Homo sapiens: one gene and its partner. The protein of the gene in region 1 purifies or fractionates together with the protein of each later gene. This does not show direct contact. Each region holds a gene or a part of one and is shown on either strand. Other genes may lie near its edges.

Region 1 (17,305 bases):
CTCCTGCCCCACCCTCTGGAGTAGATGGGATTACAAGCACCTGCCACCATGCCTGGCTAATTTTCGTATTTGTAGTAGAGATGGATTTTACCATGTTGGCTAGGCTGGCCTCGAACTCCTGACCTCAGGTGATCTACTCGCCTCCCAAAGTGCTGGGATTACAGGCGTGAGCCACTGCACCTGGCCAGTTATTTCTAGTGTTACCCAGAATTAAGAACAAATGAAATACAGTTTTAATTGTAGTTCTTTTTCAGAACCATGTAACAGTAACATCTTAATTTCATAATTTAATCATTTCTTTCCAATCCATGAATTTCATGTTATCATTTTGAACACTGGTTGCCAATTGCGTATGATTATTGTCCTTTACTTCTGACTGCTCAGATCTCAGATCTTGTGGCTCACATTTCTCTCTTTAGCTTATTCTGCTCTTTTTTTTTTTTTTTTTTTTGAGATGGAGTCTCTCTCTGTCGCCCAGGCTGGAGTGCAGTGGCGTTATCTCGGCTCACTGCAAGCTCTGCCTCCCGGGTTCATGCCATTCTCCTGCCTCAGCCTCCCAAGTAGCTGGGACTACAGGTGTCTGCCACCACGCCCGGCTGATTTTCTGTATTTTTAGTAGAGACGGGGTTTCACCATGTTAGCTAGGATGGTCTCGATCTCCTGACCTTGTGATCCTCCCACCTCGGCCTCCCAAAGTGCTGGGATTACAGGTGTGAGCTACTGCGCCCGGCCCCAGCTTATTCTGCTCTTAACTCTGGACTGTAAGCAGGTTTCAAACACACTAAACTTAAACTTATCATCTATCTGCATCCTGTCTTCCAGACCATTCTTTGTTTTTGTTTTGTTTTGTTTTGTTTGAGACGGAGTGTTGCTCTGTCACCAGGCTGGAGTGCAGTGGTGCAATCTCAGCTCACTGCCACCTCTGCCTCCCAGGTTCAAGTGATTCTCCTGCCTCAGCCTCCCAAGTAACTAGGACTATAGGCACCTGCCACCATGCCCGGCTAAGTTTTGTATTTTTAGTAGAGACGGAGTTTCACCAAATTAGCCAGGTTGGTCTTGAACTCCTGACCTTGTGGTCTGCCCACCTCAGCCTACTGAAGTGCTGGGATTACAGGTGTGAGCCACCATGCCTGACCTGGCTAACTTTTTTCTTAAGAGATGGGATATTACTGTATTGCCCAGTTTGGTCTCAAACTCCTAGATTTAACTGATCACTTCTCCTTGGCCTCCCAAAGTGTTGGAATTACAGGTGTGAGTCATTGCACCTGGCCTAAAACATTCTGATTTACTGTAACTGATAGTAACAGTAGTGTCTTTTTTTTTTTTTTTTTTTTTTTTTTGAGATGGAGTCTCGCTCTGTTGCCCAGGCTGGAGCACAGTGACCCGATCTCGGCTCACCGCAAGCTCCGTCTTCCGGGTTCATGCCATTCTTCTGCTTCAACCTCCCAAGTAGCTGGGACTACAGGCACCCGCCACCATGCCCGGCTAATTTTTTTGTATTTTTTGTAGAGACAGGGTTTCACCGTGTTAGCCAGGATGGTCTTGATCTCCTGACCTCGTGATCCTCCCACCTCGGCCTCCCAAAGTGCTAAGATTACAGGCGTAAGGCACCACGCCTGGCCTAACAGTAGTGTCTTAACCTAACATTTCCTCATGTTAGGGACCTACCTTTCAAAATGGTGCATTATTGGTGAGTTTTACCATCACAGGCCTTCAGTATTATGTGAAGCATCATAGTGCAAAAGTGAAGCAAGGAGCAGGATTGTTTGCAAATGACCTGGGTCTTCATTTGAGTTGCTTCAAGAAGGAGCCATCTGGTACTGTCCTTCCATTCCTTTCTCCCAACAGGATTATCTGCCTTCAAGTTTTGCTTATCTTTAAACTAGTGGCTTCCTTCTCACCACTGCAGGCATGTTGTTTTCTGTAGATGCTTGGTAGGTGGAGCTTCTAGCTGTCACCAAAATTTAGAATGCTTAGTGCCAGGCAGTCTGTTTGTTCCTCACTGATAAAGGTTCTTGTACTTTAAGGGATAACAAACAGGGTAATACTTAAAGATTAGCTTCATTAGAGGACATGTAGCCAAGCTTGGTGGTGTGCACCTGTGGTCCCAGCTATTCAGGAGGTTCAGGTAGGAGGATCACTTGAGCCTGGGAGGTCGAGGCTGCAGTGATCATGCCCCTGCACTCCAGCCTGGGCAACAAAGCAAGACCCTGTCTCAAATAAATAAGGAGAATTATAGTGAGTTATACTAAGCAGGCAAGTTTTGTTTTGTTTTACAAAGCAGCTTCTACCATAGTGAAAATAGCCCTTCCAGAGGACCGTGTCTGTTTATCCTGCACTGTAATAGGCTGTATCTAGAGTGTGTAGGTCATTGGAAGACCTGCACATCTCAAGAACTTAAATTTTCTTGGTCCCTCTTTTTTTGGCTGATGAAGTTTAGAACTTCAGAGTAGGAATATGAGCTGATAGTTGATTATATGACCAGAATGTTGACATTCACCAGAGGTCATCAAGAAGAGCGGGATTCTGATATGAGATGTGCCCAATCGTTGCCTACAAATCAACTGTGTTGTGATTCTGTGGAAACTTCCCTACTTACCCTGTTGATGTTAACTTGTAACTTTTTAAGCATTCTTCTGCCTTGGAGAAGGGGATCTTTAGTATACTTGGCATAAGTGAAAATCTAGGAAAGATGGTATCTGGGTTGTTTTCTGTATTCAAAGGACATTGCAGAATATATACCACTTAACGGAATAATTAGATGAGCTTTAGCAACTACTTATTAAAAGAGGTGAATATTTAGTGCATGGCACCCAAAGGAGGAAAGAACTGAAGAGATTTTCATTGTACAAAGAGCAGAAACAGAATCTGCTCAAAAGAACTGTAGAAGCCGGTTGAAAAAATGTTAAACAATGAGTAATTGTGTAAAAACTTGAGAGTATATGTTTGTCTTTGTGACACATGAAACGTTTCAATTTTAAGCTTACATGGGATTTTTAAGTGAGAGGAAGAAACAGATCCTGGTATACATAGGTGGGGAAACTTACAGATATGAAAACATTTTGATAAAAAGCTAACTTGATTGGTACAGAGCTAAAAAGGTGTGTAAAACAGGCTTTTTAAAAAACTTACATTTAGGTTATAATTTTTGCCTAGATTAATATTTGGGTCTCCTCTCCCCTAGATGCAATATAAGTGACCAACTTTGCTGGTGTTTCCTGCCTACCCATCTCCCACATTCTTTTACATGAGAACTAGACAGAGAATCAATGATAATTGATTTTGTTACTTAACCTAGGTAGCCTTAACATCATAACATTTCTTTCTGCATTTTAAGTCTAGTGATAGATATTCAGTGAATGATTCTCATTAATGAGCTAACTAATAATCATTGTTGAAAGCATGTAATTGCAGTAATGCAGTAGTGTTAAATGTTTATGATTTGCTTTCTTTTTGTAGAACACAAAGTAATTATAGTGGGACTGGATAATGCAGGGAAAACCACCATTCTTTACCAATTGTAAGTATGGGTGTTTATTAAACAGTTTTCACTAGTTATTGAAACTAATGTGTTTACAATTAATAAGAGATGCATTATAATAATGACGGAAAAACTTAAATATATGTTTTTTGTTTTTTGTTTTTTTAATTTTACCGAACACAATCTATAGAAAAGTGAGTGAAATAAACATTTGCTAAACCCTTCACAAACACTTATTGTTTTCTGCCCTCGAAAGAAAGAAATTAATATTAAATAAATAAAGCGCATATTAGAAGTGCTGGGGTGAGGTGATAAAGTGGATTTCACTTAGTTCTTACCCCACTTGGGTTTATGTAAATAAATTGATAGCTCTAGGAAGCCATTGCTACCCTCCTGACTAATAGCTTTGGAATTTTTTAACATAGCCAGACTTGTCAAAAGAAATGTGATCACTCCTGAAAATATTGCTGTAGTAGCTTGCAAGAGGGAGAGTCTTGAGACTTTCAGAGAAATCTGTTAATACCTTAGGAAATTTTCACAGCTCATCATTCCACTTGTCAGAGTACCTTCCATTATCCTTTCAATGCCAATGAAATGATAGTATTAAGCAGTAGAAGTGGATCTACCAGGCACTTTAACAAAATAGTTCTACAGTTCTTTGCCCCATTGTGTGGCTCTTACCTCTTCCCACTCATGTTGCATTAGAAGACAGCCATCAGCTCACCAGAAGTACTTCATTAGCCAGTGATTAACGCATTTTTCAGCTACTTTGCTAAAAAGCTACTGACTTAAAGTTTGTTGTTTCAGAGTTGAACAACTACTTGTTTCTCTTGAAAACATTTTCATTCATTGGTGATTATGTGTTTAAATATGAATTAGCTTTTAAACATCACATATAAACATTTCAGAAACCTGTCATCTTTGTTGAAATAATTTTACACATGGCTTCAAAAATATACATAAAACCCAAGAGAATTGCAAGCCTCCTCCAACACAGTAGTGACATGTTACTGGCAAGGGCATATTTGTTGAATTAATTGATTAATGTAGCTTTACCAATGATTATGATAATACGAGGGGTATGAGCATCAGTATTCTAAATATATATATATATATATACACACACACACAAACACACACACACACATATTTGAGACAGAGTTTTGCTCTGTTTCTAAGGGTGGAGTGCAATGGCGTGATCTCCACCTCCCAGGTTCAGGCGGTTCTCCTGCCTCAGCTTCCAGAGTAGCTGGGATTACAAGCGCCCACCACCACGCCCTGCAAATTTTTGTATTTTTAGTAGAGACGAGGCTTCACCATGTTGGTCAGGATGGTCTCAAGTTCTTGACCTCAGGTGATCCACCCAAAGTGCTAGAATTATAGGTGTGAGCCACCACACCTGGCCTTCTAAATATATCTATAGTTAATTTAAATTTTTACTTGCCCATGGTCATCTTTTTAGGACTACTTTAGATTAATATGCCTGAATTAATTTTTGTGACTAAGTCTCAATTTAGACAGTCTTCAAAATTATAGATAGCCTGCTATCCAATATTTGCTATTTTGCAATCACCTAGAAACTTGCTTTTCAGGATGGCATGGGACATTGGGTCTTATCTAACTGATAACAGGGCATGGTGGTATTGGAATTTTTGGCCACAGAAATGCAAATTCACACCACACTGTTTCCTTTCTTTTCCATCAAGCTTGCAATTCCTTCCGTTAAAAAAAAAAACAAACAAGAAACAAGTCTTTCTTCTGGAGTTGTTATCTAGATATTGATTTGCGCAAGTGTTCTCCAGGTTTATAATTTTCATGCTAATGATCACCATCATTGGTGCAGAAGGTTGATTGATCTTAAAAATACAGAGATAAAAGTTGCTTCAGATTCTCAAGATTTACAAGAGCTTTTACGGTGTCTGTTTTTCAACAGCTTAATGAATGAAGTGGTTCATACTTCTCCAACCATAGGAAGCAATGTTGAAGAAATAGTTGTGAAGAACACTCATTTTCTTATGTGGGATATTGGTGGTCAGGAGTCTCTGCGATCATCCTGGAACACATATTACTCAAATACAGAGGTATGCTAAGATGAATTTTGAATTTTAATCCAAAGGTCCCTAGAGTAAACATAGAAAGTAATTAGGCTGCACCTGGGCGTATTGACAGTTGCCTTTTTTTTTTTTTTTTTTAAGACGGAGTCTTGCTCTGTCGCCAGGCTAGAGTGCAGTGGAGTGATCTTGGCTCGCTGCAAGCTCCGCCTGCTGAGTTCAAGCCATTCTCCTGCCTCAGCCTCCCAAATAGCAGGAATTACAGGCGAGTGCCACCACACCCGGCTAATTTTTGTATGTTTAGTAGAGACCGGGGTTTCACCATATTGATCAGGTTGGTCTTGAATTCGGGACCTCGTGATCCACCCTCCTTGGCCTCCCAAAGTGCTGGGATTACAGGCTTGAGCCACCGTGGCCGGCCTTTTAATAAGATCCTTTTTTGTAGGGAATTTGGGTTTCCTTTTTTTAAAAAATAAATAAATAAAAATTTCATAAATGAGACTTAAGAATTTGGGTTTTCGAATAAAAGAAAAGGCAAATAGAAAGATTGTTTGGAGCTATTATTACTTGAGTGCTTACTGTTTGGCCAGGTTCTCTCCATTCATCTTCACAAGATTTTCATGTCTCCAGGGTTGGAGAGATCTGACACGTGGAGATATTATGTAGGTTTCCCCAAGATCTCACAACTTTCTAAGAGACCCTGACCGGTGGAGGAATAAAATATTTTATTAATTTAAAAATTTTTTATACCATGAACATTCAAAATGTTGGTAGATTTTTTTTTAATTAGAAAAAAGTAGATTTGCAAATCATCTCTCAAAGTTCTCTGCCACTTATGAGTTCAGAGCTAACTTGGGGAACAAACCTGGATATATTCATGTTCTATTTCTGCTTTTATTTCTTATTAGAGGCAGATTTTTTTAAAAGCCATTCAATGTAGTTTAGAGAGATTTATCCTTGATAGTATGATTTCACAATTGCATCCATTTAATTGTTCTTTGCAAAGAAGTACACCTAACCAATTATTTTTTTCTAAAATGAAACCTTTTAAAAATTGGAGTTGGGCCAGACACGGTGGCTCACGCCTGTAATCCCAGCACTTTGGGAGGCCGAGGCGGGTGGATCATGAGGTCAGGAGATTGAGGCCATCCTGGCTAACACAGGTGAAACCCCGTCTCTACTAAAAATACAAAAAACTAGCCGGGCGTGGTGGGGCAGACTTGTAGTCCCCAGCTACTCAGGAGGCTGAGGCAGGAGAATCGCTTGAACCCAGGAGGCAGAGTTTGCAGTGAGCCGAGGTGGCACCACTGCACTCCAGCCTGGGTGACAAAACGAGACTCTTATCTCAAAAAAAAAAAAAAAAAAAATTGGAGTTGGAAGGGAAGAGGTAGAAAAGGATATAATATGAATAATTTTTGGTGAACAAAGTTGCCTCTTTAAAAAACATGTATTGTTCTAGATTTATATTATAATAGCATGTGTGTATGTGTGTATATATTCCAATGCAACGTGTAAGTAAACAAAGATGGCGTATCATAGATAATCAGAACTTGTGGTAGCACTGAATTATTTTATTGGGTATGCAGAAGCTGTAAGCAAATAATATAGTTAAAGGGTAGCTTATACATTTATACAGTAAAATAATGTTCTGAAACTAGAATAAGTTAGAAAGTAAGGGAAGGGCCAGGCGCAGTGGCTCACTTCTGTAATCCCAGCACTTTGGTAGGCCGAGGTGGGCAGATTGCTTGAGGCCAGGAGTTCAAGACCAGCATGGCCAACATGGCAAAACCCCATCTCTACTAAAAATACAAAAATTAGCCAGGCATGGTGGCATGTGCCTGTAGTCCCAGCTACTCCAGAGGCTGAGGCATGAGAATCGCTTGAACCTGGGAGGCGGAGGTGGCAGTGAGCTGAGATAGCACCACTGCACTCCAGCCTGGGTGGCAGAGTCTCGCTCTCTCTCAAAAAAAAAGAAAAGAAAGTAAGGGACAAATGACATTGTAGCATATGATTAATTTAAACATCAGAGCTGTTAGTAGTTTTAAGCTCACAGTTAACTCCAGCTGTGAAAAGGGCAGTTATCATTGATGAATAGGTCAAAGTTGATTCTAGTGAATCCATATGTACTTAAAGTGTGTCGAAAGGGTAGTTCTTGAAGTGACTGAAACTCTGGAGGACTTAGCATGGGTCCAGAAAGAGATATCCATTACTGATGCCATTTGCATGAAACGTTCTTTTAATAAGTGATCTCTACAAGAATATCAAAATTACTACAAAGAACAGTGGCGCCTGTCACTTTGCATTTTGAAAATTCTTCACGTGGAAGAGTCCCCCAAAAGCGGTAGTATGTCCATTATAATACAAGAAGTTACAGGTATTAAGTAATTATTGACACCTTCCTCTCATTAACTCACAGTTGTTTCCCATATTCTGTTGATTCCTCCTTTGCCACGCGACATTCTTTCCGTTTATTCCCTTCTAAGCCCAACTCAGTTTATATTCAGATTAGTTGTCTGTTTCCCTAATTTTATTTATTTTTGTTTTTTATTTATTTATTTTTTTGAGATGGAGTCTCAGTCTGTCACCCAGGCTGGAGAGCAGTGCAGCCTCCGCCTCCCAGGTTCAAAGGATTCTCCTCCCTCAGCCTCCGAAGTAGCAGGGACTACAGTACACACCACCACACCTGGCTGATTTTTGTGTTTTTAATAGAGACAGGGTTTCACCATGTTGGCCAGGTTGGTCTTGAACTGTCCTCAAGTGATATGCCCACCTCGGCCTACCAAAGTGCTGGGATTACAGGTGTGAGCCACTGCACCTAGCCTGTTTCCCTAATTTTAAAGTCATCTCTGTAATCTAATTCTACCCTTCATGTCTCAGTTTATTTTGCATCTATCTCCTGCTGTAATAACATCATTTCATCTCATTTCTTAACTTTTTATTCTGTATACAGTGTTCAGCTTAAGGGTGCTTTTTCGCTGTATCATCTCCTCCATCTCCTCCTCCTCCTCCCCCTCACCCACCCCCCACATTTTTTAAAAAATGAGTTAGGGCCTCTCTCTCACCCAGGCTGGAGTGTAGTTGCATGATTCTCAGTACAGCCTCAACTTCCTAGGCTCAAAGCAGTCCTCCCACCTTAGCCTCCCAAGTAGGTGGGACTATGTGCATGGCTAATTTTTATTTTTTGTAGAGAGACAGGTTCTCACTATGTTGCCCAAGCTAGTCTCAAACTCCTGGGCTCAAGCAGTCATCCCACCTCACCTCCCAGAGTGCTGGGATTATATGTGTGTGAGCCACAATGCCTGGCCTATATCTTCTTATTTTTTAATATGCAAACTCCCTTTTTTCATGTATAGCTTTACCAACAGATTTCTCCTCTTTTTTCTGGTGTCTTGCCTTTATTTAATTTCACCTGAATCTCCAGTATATAATGCCTAAGTATATATGTTTCAATCTGGAGCATTTATGGTGGATACTGTTTTATAAAATTGTCTTATTTTTAAAATGCATTTATCTTTTTCTTTCAAACTAGCTTTTCTTTCTAAGAGTTAGGAGATTGTGGTATACACAAGTAAGCAATTATTGACTGTTTAGATGAATGATAATGGAGTACTTTGAAGTTTTAGTGAAAAATATTATTGAAATTAGTGTAAGTTTCTTTTCAAAAATTGCTTTTTACTACCAGCATTTGAAAACAAATCATAGTATTATGTATTCGGGCATCACTTAAAATAAAACAAGTGGGGCACAGTTTTTATTTGTTGAAGCTATGAGTTATTTTCTTACTGTTAACATTTGGATTTTACTGCTTGATGTGGTTCAGTATTATAAAAGCTGTTTATGGTGAAAAAGCAGTAGATGTTTTATAGTAATGATGATGCCATGTAGAGAAAGTACTTAGATTACTTGAGTAGTTTTACAGAAAACTTTTCAGCATCCCATTCAATTTTCTGTCTTTCCTTTTAATTTTCTTCTAGTTCATCATTCTTGTTGTTGATAGCATTGACAGGGAACGACTAGCTATTACAAAAGAAGAATTATACAGAATGTTGGCTCATGAGGTAAATTTTTAAAGTAAATCTTTAAAAAACAGTGTAGTAAAGTATCTGTACGTTGCCTTTGCTTTTTTGCAAAGATTAATGTGATATGATGTTGGCTATTTTATGATTAACACAACTTTATGTACTAAACTGATGAAAGTCTTGAGGTAAAAAAAAATGTTCATTACTTTTTCAAACTTAAAAAACCCTAACACATTAATTTGTAGATTACTACTGTTATTGTAAAAATTTTTCAAAGCTAAAGTTACTTAAGCATGCCTTTAAAAGTCTGATAAATTGAGATAAGCAAAAGGAAAACTTAAGGGTCTTTTCCCCAAAAGTTTCAATAACTGAAAGGTTTTTTTTTTGTTTTTTGTTTTTGTTTTTGTTTTTTTTGAGACGGAGTCTTGCTCTGTTGCCCAGGCTGGAGTACCGTGGCGCGATCTTGGCTCACTGCAACCTCCGCCTCCTGGGTTCAAGCAGTTCTCTGCCTCAGCCTCCCGAGTAGCTGGGATTACAGGAACCCGCCACCACGCCTGGTTAATTTTTGTATTTTTAGTAGAGACAGGATTTCACCATCTTCGCCAGCCTGGCCTTGAATTCCTGATGTCGTTATCCGCCTGCCTCAGCCTCCCAAAGTGCTGGGATTACAGGTGTGAGCCACTGTGCCTGGCCTGTATTCCATGTTTTTCAAACTTATACTATATAATATATATCTTTCTGAATCTTGCTCTTTTTGTACAACATTGTGACTTATCCATGATAATATATTCTGATTATCCATCTTAATATGTACTGCTTTCGTTCATTCCTTTTAACAACTGTATAGTTTTCCACAGTATGAGTATATCACAATCTATTCTTCTAATGTTTTCATAGTATAAACAATGCTGAAATGAATATTAACCAATGACCTTATGTTATACAAAGACTAGTAAGTAATAAGTATTGCCCAGCTCCCACCACCAGTACTCTTAAGTTTTGGATAAACTCTAGTATTTGGCAACATACTACCATATTTGCCTATTAGAATATTAATTATGTATTTTTGAGTCAGTATTTAAAATTCAGGTGTATTTTTTTTTTTCAGTTTGACCAGTTCGACTCAAAAATAAAAAATAATTATTTAATATTAATCTGTTGGAATGAATAATGAAATTACGGGTATTTGAGATTATTTTTATGTTAAATACTAGTGCCCGATTATGTTAAAGTAGAAGCACTTCATTATAACTGTTCAGCTGGGTAAATTTAAATTGTGGTATTTCACATATTAGAAATATTTTGTCTTGATTGCAGGATTTACGGAAGGCTGCAGTCCTTATCTTTGCAAATAAACAGGATATGAAAGGGTGTATGACAGCAGCTGAAATCTCGAAATACCTCACCCTTAGTTCAATTAAGGATCATCCATGGCACATTCAATCCTGCTGTGCTCTCACAGGAGAAGGGTAAGTTCATCCGTCTGAGGGGAGGTATGACTTCTTTCAAATTTCTTCCAACTTTTTAGGCCAACTTGTTTTCTTCATGGGTCCTGTTCCTTTTCTGTTTGTTTGTTCTTAATTAAAGGTGACTTTTATAATGTGTCTCAGGCTTACAACCTAGAAATAATTCTAGTAAAATCACTGGCAACTTAAAAACTTTTAATGTAAATATAATGTTTTACCAAAAAGCAATAAACTATTGAATTGAGTTTTCATAATCCAAATTTTTTTCTTTGTTGCCTTTATCATATACTGAGAAAAAAACTGTAATGTCACCTTTCTTTTAAAAAGGAAGCTTGAAAGAAATTTCACATTTTCTGCAAGGACTTAAACCTGAGCTCTCAGCTTTCTGCAAGAGTATGTCTTCTTTATTATTAGGAGGTCTTTTGGGAGGCATATTTCCAGACAATAAACAGTTGAGACAAATGCCACATGGTCTATTCTTCCATCTCTAACAATTTGAATGTGGGTATTAGGCCAAGAAGAACCGAATGTTATTTAAGTATTATCCTGTTTATATCAGAGAACTTATCCTCAAATCAACCTCACCTTCTTAGTTTTTCTCTTAGTATTTATCAGAAATAGCTTGCAGTAATAGCTGTGTGTAGGCCTTTTTGACTCATACTTTTAAGACTGAGTCTAAGTATTCCATTCTTTAGAATTGAGGAGGATAAGGTGAAGTTGCTATTGACTTTCTCCAGTCGTTAAGTTTCAGTTAATTTTAAAAGGCGGGGAGTATTTGCACTCTTCATGGCAAAACTGGCAAAGTTGTATCTTCAAGATGAGACTGAAGCAATTTCCCACAAACTGATTAAGAATATTTAAGAGAACATTCCATTTAAAAATTTCACTTATTATAGTGTGACTTGAATGTTGACACTGATGTATATAAATAATGATTGTGCTACCAGCCTTTGGTTAAGACCTAAAAATAATAAGTACGCTTTCAGTTTTTAAGTATAAGGTTTTTAATTAAAAATACTTCTATCTTTTGTTTAGGTTATGCCAAGGTCTAGAGTGGATGACCTCCCGGATTGGTGTGAGATAACTTTTTTGCTTGAAAGAGACTGCTCTATTTATTCTGTGACATGAACATTTTTTCCTAGTACCTTTGGCTGCTAAGGCAGCAGCATGTTTAATTTATAACAACACAAACCTCTGAGAGCAACACTTGAATCAAGTGCAGCTGAACTGGAACATAAAAGATTTTTTCTTAACTTTTTTTTTTTAACACACTAATCTTCAGTTGGATGAATGTAATGTATAACTATGTTTTCAGCAACAATTCTTCTGTTTATTCTAATTAATCAGTGACTGCCTTGTAAGAAATGTTTGTCATATGCGTGATGTCTTCTGAAATATTCTTATAACCTTAATGACCAATTGCTTTCAATTCTTGACCAGCACTCCCTCCCAACCAGAGAATTACTGGTTTGATAGAGTAGTCTTGGAAACCATCAGGTACTGCCTGCAGACTTCTCCAGCACTAAATATATTTGTTCCCTCTATAAACCATTCATCTTTCGGACAGAACTTACTGTAAAGAAAGAAATCTGCCTAGAGGATATATGTAAGGAAGATTCCACATCATGAGTACTTGCCTTTTAACTTTCCCCCACATTACTGTTGAGTCATGGAATAATGTTTAAGTTGTTATTTGCATGGAAATTAAGTAGGCTGTTTATTTATCTAAAGGAATCAAGTCCACTCTTCTGCCTGCAACATTTGTTCAAAAACTAACCAAGGTAAAATATTTATTTGAAAGCCCAACTTTGATGTTAAATATTCTTGAATAAATCTGTTATTTTAAGAATATCACATTATTCAATGCATATAAAACTATCAGAAGTTAGTAAATCATACCAGCACTAAAAATAAGACAATTGGAATATATTTTAGCATCAGTTTACAAACAACTTTATTATCAACAGAAATTTTAGCTCTTTTCTTTGCAAGATATATCACAGCTGCTTTGGGCAGTAGCTGAAGCCGAAGTATGAACAGTCCATTTTGTTTCTTAAAATTTGAAGTCGTGTCTGTCATAGCATTTTTACTACCAGCAGTATGTTACTTAAAAAACTACATGGCTTTCCTTGAATTTATTTGACGGTATTATGTAATAGACTTGAAACAATTGCCATCTTTGTAGTTATGCCTTGGGTTCTAAAATGTTATAGGAAACTGCTGAATTGAATCCTAGCTTTTAGAATATTAATAGGAGACTCAAAGTTAATATTCTTAACAACTTAAAATTAAAAAAAGTCATAATCTATCAAAAGTTTATTTATTGGATGGCATTAAAACATTTTTGAGGCAGTTGTCTAATATGAACAATAATCTAAACAATATATTCCTTAAATTAAGAGGAAAGACAAGTGTCGTATTTCGATCCTGTTTATTCAAATGTGTGATTTTGCTGAAATGAAAGGGATAAAATGAATACTTAGAGAATAATACTTCATTTTTGCAGTACTTTTTAATTTTGATAAAAAAGATACAAAGTTCATAATATCAAAATATGTGTTCAAAATTGGTATTTTAATTTTAATATTTTTGTAAGTTGATTTAAATTTTGCTCTTTTTTCAGGTGTGCTTGGTTTATTATATTTAGTCAAGTTAATTTAGTCGAATGTGGTAACATTTTTCTGATTTATCTTTAGTTGGAGCACACCCTTGAACTGAACAGTGGCCAAAGGAAAGCTTTCTGGGCTTTGGAAAGTAGTTGTTTAACTTTGTTTTAAGCCGTTTTCTTAGTGATTCTGTATCAAGTAGAGGATAAGTGTAGTTTAACTTAGTTTTTAATATAACCCATAATCAAGAACATGAGCGAAAAGCAGACATAAATCGATATGGATGGTTTGTGGTGTGTGTGGGATGTGGGGGAATTAAGAAAATGCCATTTACCTAAGCACAGTTTGCCTGAATTTCTGCTTGGTTGTGTTGTTTACCGTAAGTACTGAGGGTAGTTTCCCTAAGTCTGTCCTGAGAAAAAGCATACTTAGTACTCCTGTATTTGTTCTTATGAAATGACTATCTGCCTTCTTGTATCTAGTAAGATTGGCTGGCTCAATTTTCTTCTGTCAAATTATATGGTTATTTTTTATATTACCACATCAGCATTATATTAAAAGTGTTTTTAATAGTTGATTGTATTTTGCCAACTACTAGTATAGACTCAAATTTGCTATTTAATTTTTAAAATACAATTTATTTTGTAAATCCTTTAAAAAATATTTGGTTAGTTTTGGATTAGAAATGATTTATGTTAGCCATGTGTTGAAGATGAAATTGGCATCAGTGTAGACGGTGCTGATTGGGAAAAGTTCATGATTAGGAAATTCATGTAAGACTTTTTAAGAGTATTTTTTAGGTTTTCACTCAATCTTTCCTGTCACAGTAACGTGAAAACTGATTATTCTTTACTCCAAGAGAATGTTTTAACCCAAGCAAGTATCTAATACTAGAGCATTGGTTCTGACATTCATTGTAAATCAGTGAACTGTAAGATACTGTCTAAAAAATGTACATTTGTAATTAGTGCCTTTATTCATATTTTGAAATAAGTTCTTAGTTTTATATTATACCTGTTCTTTAGAAGTCATGTTAGCAGCTAATTATTTCAGTGATGAAATAATTTGTGTTTTATATCCCCCTTCACCTCCATGTATTGGTTAGCACAGTTTATAGTAAGTGAAAAGCAAGGGACCCACCTACATTACCTTCAGGAGACTGTTCTACCTTTTAATTTGAAAACAAGGAAATTAAATTTTAACAGAAATCTTTTAAGTATGTTATAACCAAAGTGTTCAATTATCCTTGCAAGTTCAAATACAGCATTTTTCTTAATTTTGAGCGTGTCATGTCCTTCATCTTTAAACCCATCATTCTTATTGAAGCCCATTTGAGAACTCTTAGAATTAATAGAACCTTTTATAAGGGAATATATGGAATATTTTTTATTGTTAATGTAACTTAATTCCTTAAAACCTGGAATATTAATATATATAATCTATTAAAAGCTGAAGATTAAATATGTAATTTTTGCTTTTAGTTTCTTGTGTTAGTATGCTTAAAGGTATCAATACTTTTATTCTATATTCATTAGAAGAAAGGTAATAAATTTAAGTTTCATTGCTGAAAAATTTTAAATGAGTGCCACCCCATAGCCATAGTCATTTTGATTAAGCATAATTTAACTTTCATTATAGCATAAAGAGAAAATAATTATTTTAGTATGGAAACAGTGATAGGCAGTGCTGTAAACAATATTCTCTGAAAAGTTGTGGGGGTCACAAAGAAAATTTTAAAGAATATAGAAGCTTTTTTAAAAAATCTTTTTAGTGTAGTTTCTTAGAACAAATTATAAACATAATCATTCTGAATAATCAATTTTTATTTAGTCCTTAACTATGTAAAACCGTATCAGTAGAAAAATGTGCTGGTGTCGTGTCTAAAGATGGATAAATTTCTTTGGAATTTATCTTTGGAGACCAACTTTATGAGGCAGACTTTTTGTCTACAGCTTTGGAACCAAAAAAACTTCACTCTAATTCAGTCCTAAAGGCTATTTTACATTTTGCCGGGGTAAAGTGACTTCAAGATACAGCATGGTGTCTTGTATCTAGTAGAATATTGTGCTAGCCATCTAAAAAAGTGGATTTGAGCCTTAATTTGGCCGTTTCTCAATTGTCTAGTTGACCTTAGACAATTAGTGTCCATGGCTTTCCTTTTGTTTTTCCCATACTGAGGAACTTAAACTACAGCTCTAAAATGTCTTTTGGTTTTAAAATTCTGAATGCTTATATACTACTATTAAAAATTAAAAATCCCTCAAATAGTAGGGCAATACAGGTAATATGAAATTAAATGTATTTTTATCCATTATTTGATTCCCACCTGTTATTTTATTTAGAATACGAATACAACCAAGTAGGGAAAAACGTATCAGTAACTGCTATTCAACTTAAATTCAGCGAATTAATAGCTGAATAGAAATAGCTAATGACAATGCAAAAGAGAAAACAAGCCATATTGCTAAGAAAAGGATAGTAAGCTGCTTAGAAAGAACCAGCCTGTGTTGGAAATAATTCTCTTCTAGATAATTTACCTTATTTTCTTGGCTTGTACTAATTGAATGGAAGTGGTTAATTTGTTCAGAGTTTATTGCCGTTTGATGCCACCCCAGTCTATAGTTCTGTGTGACTTTCCATATTGAAAGAGTAGGGTTAGTAGCCAGGTTGTCAGTCTTTTACAAATGTCTACATAAATGTCTACATAAATCTGAAAGTGGTTTATATTCAAGGTTAGTTTTTCAGTAGCGTCTCCTCCTTATTCATTCACTTTTACTGTGAAGACTGAAATCCAAAAGCCAGGTTCCCCAAAAAAGTATTTTTAAAAAATTTTAGGGGACCAAAATAAATAGAGGAAGACCAATATAAAAAAATATGTTCAACTATTCCATTTTAAATTTAAAGCAGAAAAAAAAATTGTGCCCCTCAGACCTAAAGGCAGCTTTAAATGTATATAGTTTGGTGAAACATTTGGGAAATATTAATTTGGAGGTTTAGAAGCATACGAAAAACAAATTCAAAGCACTTGAAAGTAAAGACAATATCATGAGGTCGAAAAAACTTCAAAAGGATATTAGGTAAGAGAAAATGTGAATGAAAGCAGTGAATTTCTGCCTCTCCTCGTATTTAGGGTACTTAAAATTACTAAAAAATACTGTCTTTTTACCATACAGCTAGATGGCCTGTATTATTCTTAATGTGGCCAAAGGAGTGAAGACTGATTAGGGTTTTAGAATTTGGAACTGTAGTCACATAAAGGCATCTTTTGCATTTCTTAAACCAGTAATCTACATTTTCTCCTGGAAATGGAGAAATATGAAATGTGCTGTGCATAGCTTTTGGAATAGAAAACAAAGTTTTAAAAGAATGGATATGTTTTCTTGCACAACTTGTAAAATTTTAATTAAAAAATTACCTCATTTTTCAATCCATAAGGTGCTTTGCTCAAGTTTGTGGGATGTTTGTACCATCCCATAAAAACCCCCTTCACCCAAACTGTATTTGAAATATGCAAAATTCATAACTAAGGGATAGCATTCCTTGGAGACTTTGTTTTGTTTTACTCTTGTTTACCAGCTGGGCCAACATGGTAGATATATGAGATTCACATATGGTTTCATTAAAGCACATAGGAAAGTGCTCAGTCAATATTTAATTAGTTTAATTAGATAAGGGAAAGGAG
Region 2 (8,816 bases), on another chromosome or scaffold:
TTTTTCTTCCTTTCCCAACTTCACCACCACGGCAGCCCTCTTCATTCACATAGCTCTGACCAAATATCCTCAGCGAGTTAAGACAGTTACGGTTGGAACTCTCCGTGTCTGGCTCTTCCTTCTTCCCTGCATCTTTGGTCCCCAGTCAGGAGGTCTAATGGTAATATCCAGTGATTTTTCTAAAGAGGAATCAGTGGTTATATTATACAAGGGGTGTGTGCGTGTGTTTTGGGTGGTGAATACAGAGCAGCGGTTAGGACCATAAGAAATAAGAGAAATGGAATGTGGCATGACCGCTGCCAGTTCTGATATTTTTGAAATTGGTAATTTAAAATAAAGTAGTTGGTTTACTTACTTAAGCCTCACATCTTAACCGTCCTTCCTTGATCTGGAGTTCCTATCGCCTACCTTTATCAATTAAAAATGCCTTGAAAATGAATCCTACTATGTTAAAGCATACGGTTAAGTAGATAGAAGCCCAATTGCCTGGGATGAAGTCCCAAGTCTGCTCATTACTATATATCCTTGGGGAGGTTACTCAACCCTGCTTCAGTTTCCCCTCTGTAAAATTAGAAAATGAGTCAGTGTGAGAATTAAACAAATTAATACATTAGGCAGGGCGTGGTGGCTTGTGCCTGTAATCCCACCACTCTGGGGGGCTGAAGCAGGAGGATCACTTGAGCCCAGGAGCTCAAGACCAGCCCAGGCAGCAGAGAGAGACTGTGTCTCTACAAAAATAAAAATAAAAAAACTACCTGGGCATGGTGTTTGTGCCTGTAGTCCCAGCTATTTGGGAGGCTGAAGCAGGAGGATCACTTGAGCCCAGGAGTTCCAGGTTACAGTGAGCCCTATTGTCACTGCACTCCAGCCTGGGCAACAGAGTGAGACCCTGCCTGAAAAAAAAAATTAAAAGTATTTAGAATGATGCTTGGCACCAGGAAGTGCTCATTAACATTAGAAACTATCTTCATGCCCCACTGTCTTCCCCATACACCATAGTCTTGCTTCCATCCCCACACTGCCCCATCCCTTGCTTATCCCCTTGAGCTCAGACTCATTCAAAGCCTTGTCAAAGGAGCCTCTCTGCTACAGAAGATGCTACTGACCACTTATAGGACATGTCTGTTTTACTCCTGTGCCACTGACTCTTCCTTCTTAGGCTTTTTTGTGGGTTCCTTTCCTCATTCTTCATGTTCTCCATGATTTTAATGACCACTTATTTATTCCTGACTCCCAAATGAAAATCTAGTATATACTTGTGGAACTTTATTTGTGTTTACTCATCACTTGCTTGACATAAGCTTTTAGATTTCCCAGAAGCACCTAAAACTCAACATATAGAAAAGAGACAATTTTCATTCTGGCTACTCTTACGTTGGATCCACAGCCCCAAGCCCTCTCCCGTTGAGGTCCCTAATTCATTTAATGGCTTTCTCATCTTCCTAGTCACCCACACCCACCACCTAGGATGCAGCCTTGATAACATTCCTTTTACTTAATTCACAATATCCAACTAATCACATCCTACGTATTTTAACTCTCAGACATCTCTCAAATTTGTGCTCTCATTTTCATACCTATTTCTGTCTCTGTATTAGACTCTGAGCATCCTTTGCCTAAATACTGCATCTTTTGCCTAAATGCTCTCAGCTGGTCTCTCTGTCTGAAGTTTTTTTTTTCCTCTCAAGTCATAGTCCTCCATAGATCTGTCAATTATCTATGTCACCCCAAATGAAACTTCTACACTTGATCTTAGCCAAAAGGCCGAGAAGCGATCCCCAAATGAAACTTCTTATTGCATTCTGGACAAACTCTTAAGTTCCTCAACATAGCACAGAAAATCCCTTCTGGTCTGATTCCTGCCAACCTTTCTAGCTTCATCTCCTGTCACTCCTACTTAAATTACTGCTCTAATCAATTTTTATAGATTTTATAATTGATGATTTGGCATCTGTTGATCACTAGGCCAAACTAACAGCCAACATTGTTTACATTTCCCCTGTGGCCTGGCTTTTGAGGGTGTGCCTAAATCATATTGCAAATCTTCCTAATACAACCCTTAACATCTGTGTTTCGCTTCTTGCCCAATCAAAAACATCTCTATCTAGCTACTCGCTGACACATTAGTAATAAAGGAAGAGTCCCAGTTCCTTTTTTTTTTTTCCTTTTTTTGGAGGCAGGGTCTTGCTCTGTTGCCCAGGCTGGAGTGCAGTGGCATGTGATCACAGCTCACGGTAACCTGGAATTCCTGGGCTCAAGCGCTCCTGCCTCAGTCTCCCAAGTAGCTGAGACTGCAGGCATATGCCACCATGCCTGGCTAATTATTTTTTAATTAAAGAAAATGTTTTAGGCCGAGGTGGGTGGATCACGAGGTTAGGAGATCGAGACCATCCTGGCTAACATGGTGAAACCCCGTCTCTACTAAAAATACAAAAAATTAGCCGGGCATGGTGGCAGGCGCCTGTAGTCCCAGCTACTCGGGAGGCTGAGGCAGGAGAATGGCGTGAACCCGGGAGGCGGAGCTTGCAGTGAGCCGAGATCGCACCACTGCACTCCAGCCTGGGCAACAGAGCGAGACTCTGTCTCAAAAAAAAAAAAAAAAAAAAAGAAAAAAGAAAATGTTTTTTGCAGAGACAGAGTCTCACTATGTTGCCCAGGCTGGTCTTGAATTCTTGGCCTCAAGCAATCCTCCTGCCTTGGCCTCCCAAAGCGCTGGGATTAATAGCTGTGAGTCACCGGGTCCTCCCCCAGTTCCTCTCTTTTTCCTTGTCCCTGTGCATGGTGAGGTTTTGTGTGGCCCTGAGTGGTATCAAGCTAAATAACAAGCAGAGAGGGACGCTCTAAAAGAAAATAATATTTATTCTGGAATAGGCATTGCAATGGGACTACGCATGCCATAGTCAACTATGTGCATATTCAGGGGGGTGTAAAGGAAGACAAAGATTTTTAAAGAAAAAATGAGTCAGATTCCATAATTGTTTTAAGATAATTATCCTTGGCTACAAGGATCAAATGGCAAGGATGGCATCAGTACTAGGTTGGACAGGGAGTTGCTGGGTAGCCGTCCTAACAGATGTATTTTTTTGTGTGTAAGGTTGCGATGGCCTTTGTGCAAGTCTGTGGTTTTTGCAGTCTTTTGTGACAGTTTTTGTCATCAGGCATGGGTGCCTGAGAACCCTCCCTCCATGGCCTTTCACCAGCTCCATTTTTCTGATTAAAAAAAAAAATACAAGTGACTCCATTTTGATGCTGACAACTTTTTCAATGGCAATGTGGAACTGTAATAAACTTTTTTCAATCTTTCAGTGACACTGACATCTTCATGTCTCTACTCAGCCATACAATTAAATTAAATAATGTGTACATTTTAAAACAATGACAGCTGTTTAATGACAGAGACTGTGAACTGGGACCCTCTAGGCTGGCCACTTTTGGTGTTTTATTTGGGCCACAAGTTTTTGAATGCTTTCAATTACCTACAGAAAATTTCAAAAGTGGAAAATTTCCTATAAAAATCTGCCTTTATTGCTTCTCTTGAAAACTGGAAGAACCGGCCACCCAGGTCCCATAACACCTACCTGGCTGAATAGGGTCGGCCCTACTTTCAGCAGAAATACCTCCTGCAGTTTTCAACAGCCCCAGCTCTCCTGGGCGTTGATTTTCCTAGTTGCTTCCTTTAATGCAGACATTTGAGTTTGCAGCCCTAGATTGACAGTGTAGGGGCACTGAATTACTTAGGGTTCCCACATACATCGTTTCTTACACTCATTTTCTTCTGCACAGCACCTTTTTTTCCTTTAACCACTCGCAGATGCTAACTCATTCTTCAGGACTCAATTCCAATGTCCAGAAGCTTTTCTCTGAACTCATGATGGACTCCGCGTCCCATTATGTATTCCCACATCGCTCCGTACATCCATCTGTCACATCCCTTGTCACATTAAATTCAGATTAAATGTTTGTAGGATGCTTGAGTTCTTCACAAGTCTCACGTCACTTAGCGACGGTCGGGAACTCCTCAGTGGTAGTTTCGGGAGCCATTCATTCATTTTATTCATTTCATCATTCTTTCAACAGTCATAACGTAGGTGACGACGACTGACTCATCTCTTAAAAGATGTGTGTGTCCCTCGACAAATAACCTGTCTGCCCCTATCGTTCTGTAGGAGGACGGAGTCCCAGAGAACTACAACTCCCATCAAGCACTTGGGGGATCGCCGCGGCTGAGGGAGAGACTATGGCTTAGGAACCACCATTCGCGTGAGGCTCTGCTCCCCGCGCCTGCGCAGAGTGCAGGGCCACGTCGCTTTTGCTGTACCGGGGACCACGCGTCTCATCCATGGCTTCCGCGGACTCGCGCCGGGTGGCAGATGGCGGCGGTGCCGGGGGCACCTTCCAGCCCTACCTAGACACCTTGCGGCAGGAGCTGCAGCAGACGGACCCAACGCTGTTGTCAGTAGTGGTGGCGGTTCTTGCGGTGCTGCTGACGCTAGGTAAAAGGCGGCCGGTGGTCATGGCGGGTTTGGGGCGGGCAGAGGTCCGGGCTTTGGCTGCACCGCTGCAGGCCGGGGACGCGGGGCTGAGAGGGCGCCTTGAGGGCATCAGGAGGGTGAGACCCACCCAGTCTACACCCCACCCTCTCTCCTGAAGCAGCGGCAGCAGCTGGGCGTTAAGGGGGATGCCGGGCAACCCCCGGAGTTAACGTCCTGGTCCTTGGGGCGCAGATTGCTCTTCGTCATCTGCCCTGTTACGCTTGAGCGCGCTGTTCCTCGCCTTCCGCTGTTCTCACTGCAAAGACTCAGGGTCTTGACACCAACTTTCAGCCTCCCGTGTTTGCGTGCGGGCGCTGGGATACCAAGGTAGTGAGATAGCACCTGAGTCCCAGTCAGAGTAAGGACTGCAAAGAAAAGTTGACAGTTGACAGTGCCTGGCTCTCAGTGGATCCCTAACAACAGCAATAGTAACCATTATGATAAAAGTCAGTTCCAGGTGAATGAGGTGTTTCGTCACAGACTTCTGTGAATTTCCCCACCCCAGCCATGCACATATACTGATTCCCAAGGCGTAATTTTTGTTGTTTTTCTCTGTCTATTCCACAGTCTTCTGGAAGTTAATCCGGAGCAGAAGGAGCAGTCAGAGAGCTGTTCTTCTTGTTGGCCTTTGTGATTCCGGGAAAACGTTGCTCTTTGTCAGGGTAAATGATTTCATTGACACCCCTGTTAAGCTTAATAGAAAATTTTATAGATCCCAGTATTCCTGTCATCTCACGGTTTATTTTGTAAAAGAAGCTGATGCTGTTAAATTTGGAAGTTAATTCTTGACTTACTTGGGAGAACAAAAAGACTCGTAGAAACCCATAATTGAGAAATATTGGTCATTTCTCCTTTTTTTTTTCTGTTTGCCCTTGCCAGATGCTGATATTTAGTCTTTATCACATTCAAGGATTTTATTTAATTAGTTTCATTCCAGAATAGCAGAAGGCATAGAAGCTAGTGTCCTACAGTTTATAATTCCTTCGTTAACAAATTCTTAGGACAGTTTATCGAAGACACTTTTTCACAGGGTGATCCTTCTTTGACATAGTGGGCTAGTTAGGCTTCTTTTTACTAATATTTATTTTTAATACATTTAGTATTTTTAACAGTGTATTTTAATGTGGTGAATAGGAGAGGTTTTCTGCTTTTTAACTCTTCTTTTTGAGAGTATAAATTATTTCCCTTCCATTAAAGAAATACCTCCATTTTTTTTTTTTTTTTTTTTTTGAGGGAGTGTCTCACTCCAATGCCCAGGCTGGAGTGCAGTGGCGAGATCTCTGCTCATTGCAGCCTTGACCTCTGGGACTCAGATGATTCTCCCACCTCAGCCTCCGAGTAGCTGGGACTACAGGCGTGCAACACTACGCCCGGCTGATTTTTTATATTTTTTGTAGAGATGAGATTTTGCCATGTTGCCCAGGCTTCAAATCATTTTTGTTGGTTAAAAATCTTTACAGAAGCTTGGCAAATTTGGCCACTAACTGTCTTTTGAGAATAATGTTGTTTTTATTCCACTGAGGAGTAAAATATGCAATTAATTAGATTTTTTTCTACAGGTAAAAAAAATCAATATCGTCTTTTTCACCTGTCGGAAGCAGCATTCATTTACTTAACCTTACACCTGGGAGACTTAGAATAATATAACTCAATTTAGGTGTGCTATTAAAATGTTGAATATCACCCATCTTGTTTTTTTTACAGTTGTTAACAGGCCTTTATAGAGACACTCAGACGTCCATTACTGACAGCTGTGCTGTATACAGAGTCAACAATAACAGGGTAAGATGTTTGTGGAGTTTTGGAGTCTGACAGTCTTACTTTACTGTGGTGTGTCAGTTAAGGACATTTTTAGGATGAGTTCATCTGAGGATGTAAGTACCATTTGTAGCTTATTTTTATGGAGAAACATATTCTTTGTGACAAATTCTCTTGACAATCTGTACAGTAGATTTAATCATGCCCTCCTCTGCATTGTTGTACCTTAATGTACAGTAATGTTATATCACATTTTATTCTTATTTTTTGTTTCTGTGTCTTCTTTCCAACTTTACAATGAGTTCTTAAGAGTGGGCATTAAACCTTTTAAGTTTTGAATAGGTAATACATGCACATGGGACAAAAATTCAAAAGGTTAGAAAAGATATTTGGTGAAAAGTAATTTTTCCTTTCCTTTCCCCACTACCTAGTTTTCTCCTCAGAAGCAGTGACTTACTTTTTTTTGTATGTAGTCTTCCGGATGTTCTGTGCATATACAAACATGTCTGTATATCCTTTATTGTTGTTTTTTTTTAAATGCTGTTCTGCCCATTATTTTTCTCATACGGCTGATACAACTTGGGCTTTTCTTATTGTCCTACATTTGTATACATAGTACCATCTGGTTGGTTTATGAGCTGCATAGTACTCCACTCTGTTGCTATACCATAAAATTAAATTCTTACTTAATCTGGACCGTGTTAATAGACATTTAGTTTTGTTATTATAACCTTTGCTTTTACAAACAGTGCTGCAATGGATATCTTACAGAGTATATATGAGTGTATTTCAAATATAAGGAATCATGGGGCCTGGCTTGGTGGCTCACGCCTGTAATCCCAGCACTTTGGGAGACCAAGGTAGGCCGATCACTTGAGGTCAGGAGTTCAAGACCAGCCTGGCCAACATGATGAAATCCTGTCTCTACTAAAAATACAAAAATTAGCCGGGTGTGGTGGTGGGCGCCTGTAACCCAGCTACTCGGGAGGCTGAGGCATGAGAATCATTTTAACCCGGGAGGTGGAGGTGGCAGTGAGCCAAGATTGCGCCACTGCACTCCAGCCTGGGCAATAGAGCGAGACTAAGTCTCAAAAAAAAAAAAAAAATATAAGGAATCATGGGAAAGACATTTTACATACCTCTGTAACTTCAGAATGTAGACAGTGACTACCAAACCGATTGTAATGCATAAGTTTGTTTGTTTGTTTTTGAGACAGGAGTCTCACTCTGTTGCCCAGGCTGGAGTGCAGTGGCATGATCTTGGCTCACTGCAACCTCTGCCTCCCGAGTTGAAGCGATTCTCCTGCCTCAGCCTCCTGAGTAGCTGGGATTACAGGCGCCCACCACCATGCCTGGCTAATTTTTGTATTTTTAGTAGAGATGGGGTTTCACCATGTTGGCCAGGCTGGTCTTGAACTCCTGACCTCAAGTGATCCGCCCACCTCAGCTTCCCAAATTGCTGGGATTACAGGCGTGAGCCACTGCACCCAGCCATGTAATAAGTTTCGGTGAGTGAGTGGAGTGAGGGCTCGTTGGAGGATGTGGATGGATAGATGGATGAATTAGAATTGTGGTTTGAGACCTTTTCTTCTTCTCTTTGTCTTCTTTCCCCTTTCTCATGCCTCCAGAATTAAAGATTGTAAAGAAAAATAAAGGGACATGTTTTTAAATATCTTAGCGATATCTTTGTTTTTTTTTTCAATGATGACACTCTTTGTGGCCCAGACCTTTTTAAACTCCCAAGGATTCAGATTTTGAAATTCCAGGTTTGCAAGATCATCTAGTACCTGCACTAGATTTTTAACTTAGGATACTCCAGGATATGCTTTAAATCTGTACCTTCTAATATGTAGCCACTGGCCACATGTGACTGTTGAGCACCTAAACTAGGACTAGTCCAAATTGAGGCATGCTGTAAGTGTGAAGTACACACCAGATCTTGAAGACTTAGTATGGAAAAAAAGAACGTAAAGTATCATTAATAATTTCTTTTTTTATTACATTTTAAAAGATAATATTTTGGATATATTAGATTAAATAACTTAAAATTAATTTTACCAATTTCTTTTTACTTTTTTATTATGGTTACTGGAATATTTAAAATTACATATGTGGCTTCTGTTATTCTATATTTCTACTATATTTCTATTCTATCAATATTTCTACTGAATATATAGAGCATTTTTCCCTTCCCTCTTCACTCTTTCTCCTACCCCCTTACGTTTTCGATCTAATCTCTTTAGATAGTAATATACCTAGTAATGTATCTTCCAAATTGCTTAGGGTGTGTGGTATAGTGCTGCTTTTGAAATGGAGCAGTTAAGTCCCAACCTGGGATCTCCAGACTCTTAACAGTACTTAAAAAAAAAAGAGAGGGACTAATAAAAAACATATTTGTCTATAAAGAAATGCACAGGCTATGTGAAAGGTAAGGTCATAATAAACCCAGCTGGAATTGTGTTAAATCTGTGCAGGATACTGATTGCCTGCTTCTGAACTGTGGGTATGGTTGGCTGTGGATAATGT

The links.
Region 2: the proteins of ARL5B (region 1) and SRPRB purify together in Homo sapiens (affinity purification with mass spectrometry; 3 studies listed by BioGRID and IntAct, with this or other methods). This does not show direct contact.

The regions. Positions count from the first base shown.
Region 1 is NC_000010.11:18,663,116-18,680,420, forward strand, and holds part of ARL5B (ADP-ribosylation factor-like protein 5B), read left to right. Parts: intron 1-3,459; coding exon 3,460-3,520; intron 3,521-5,414; coding exon 5,415-5,562; intron 5,563-9,506; coding exon 9,507-9,590; intron 9,591-10,868; coding exon 10,869-11,020; intron 11,021-12,052; coding exon 12,053-12,101; 3' UTR 12,102-17,305.
Region 2 is NC_000003.12:133,801,510-133,810,325, forward strand, and holds the start of SRPRB (signal recognition particle receptor subunit beta), read left to right. Parts: upstream 1-4,305; 5' UTR 4,306-4,339; coding exon 4,340-4,493; intron 4,494-5,099; coding exon 5,100-5,194; intron 5,195-6,236; coding exon 6,237-6,314; intron 6,315-8,816. UniProt on the Homo sapiens protein: Component of the signal recognition particle (SRP) complex receptor (SR). Ensures, in conjunction with the SRP complex, the correct targeting of the nascent secretory proteins to the endoplasmic reticulum membrane system.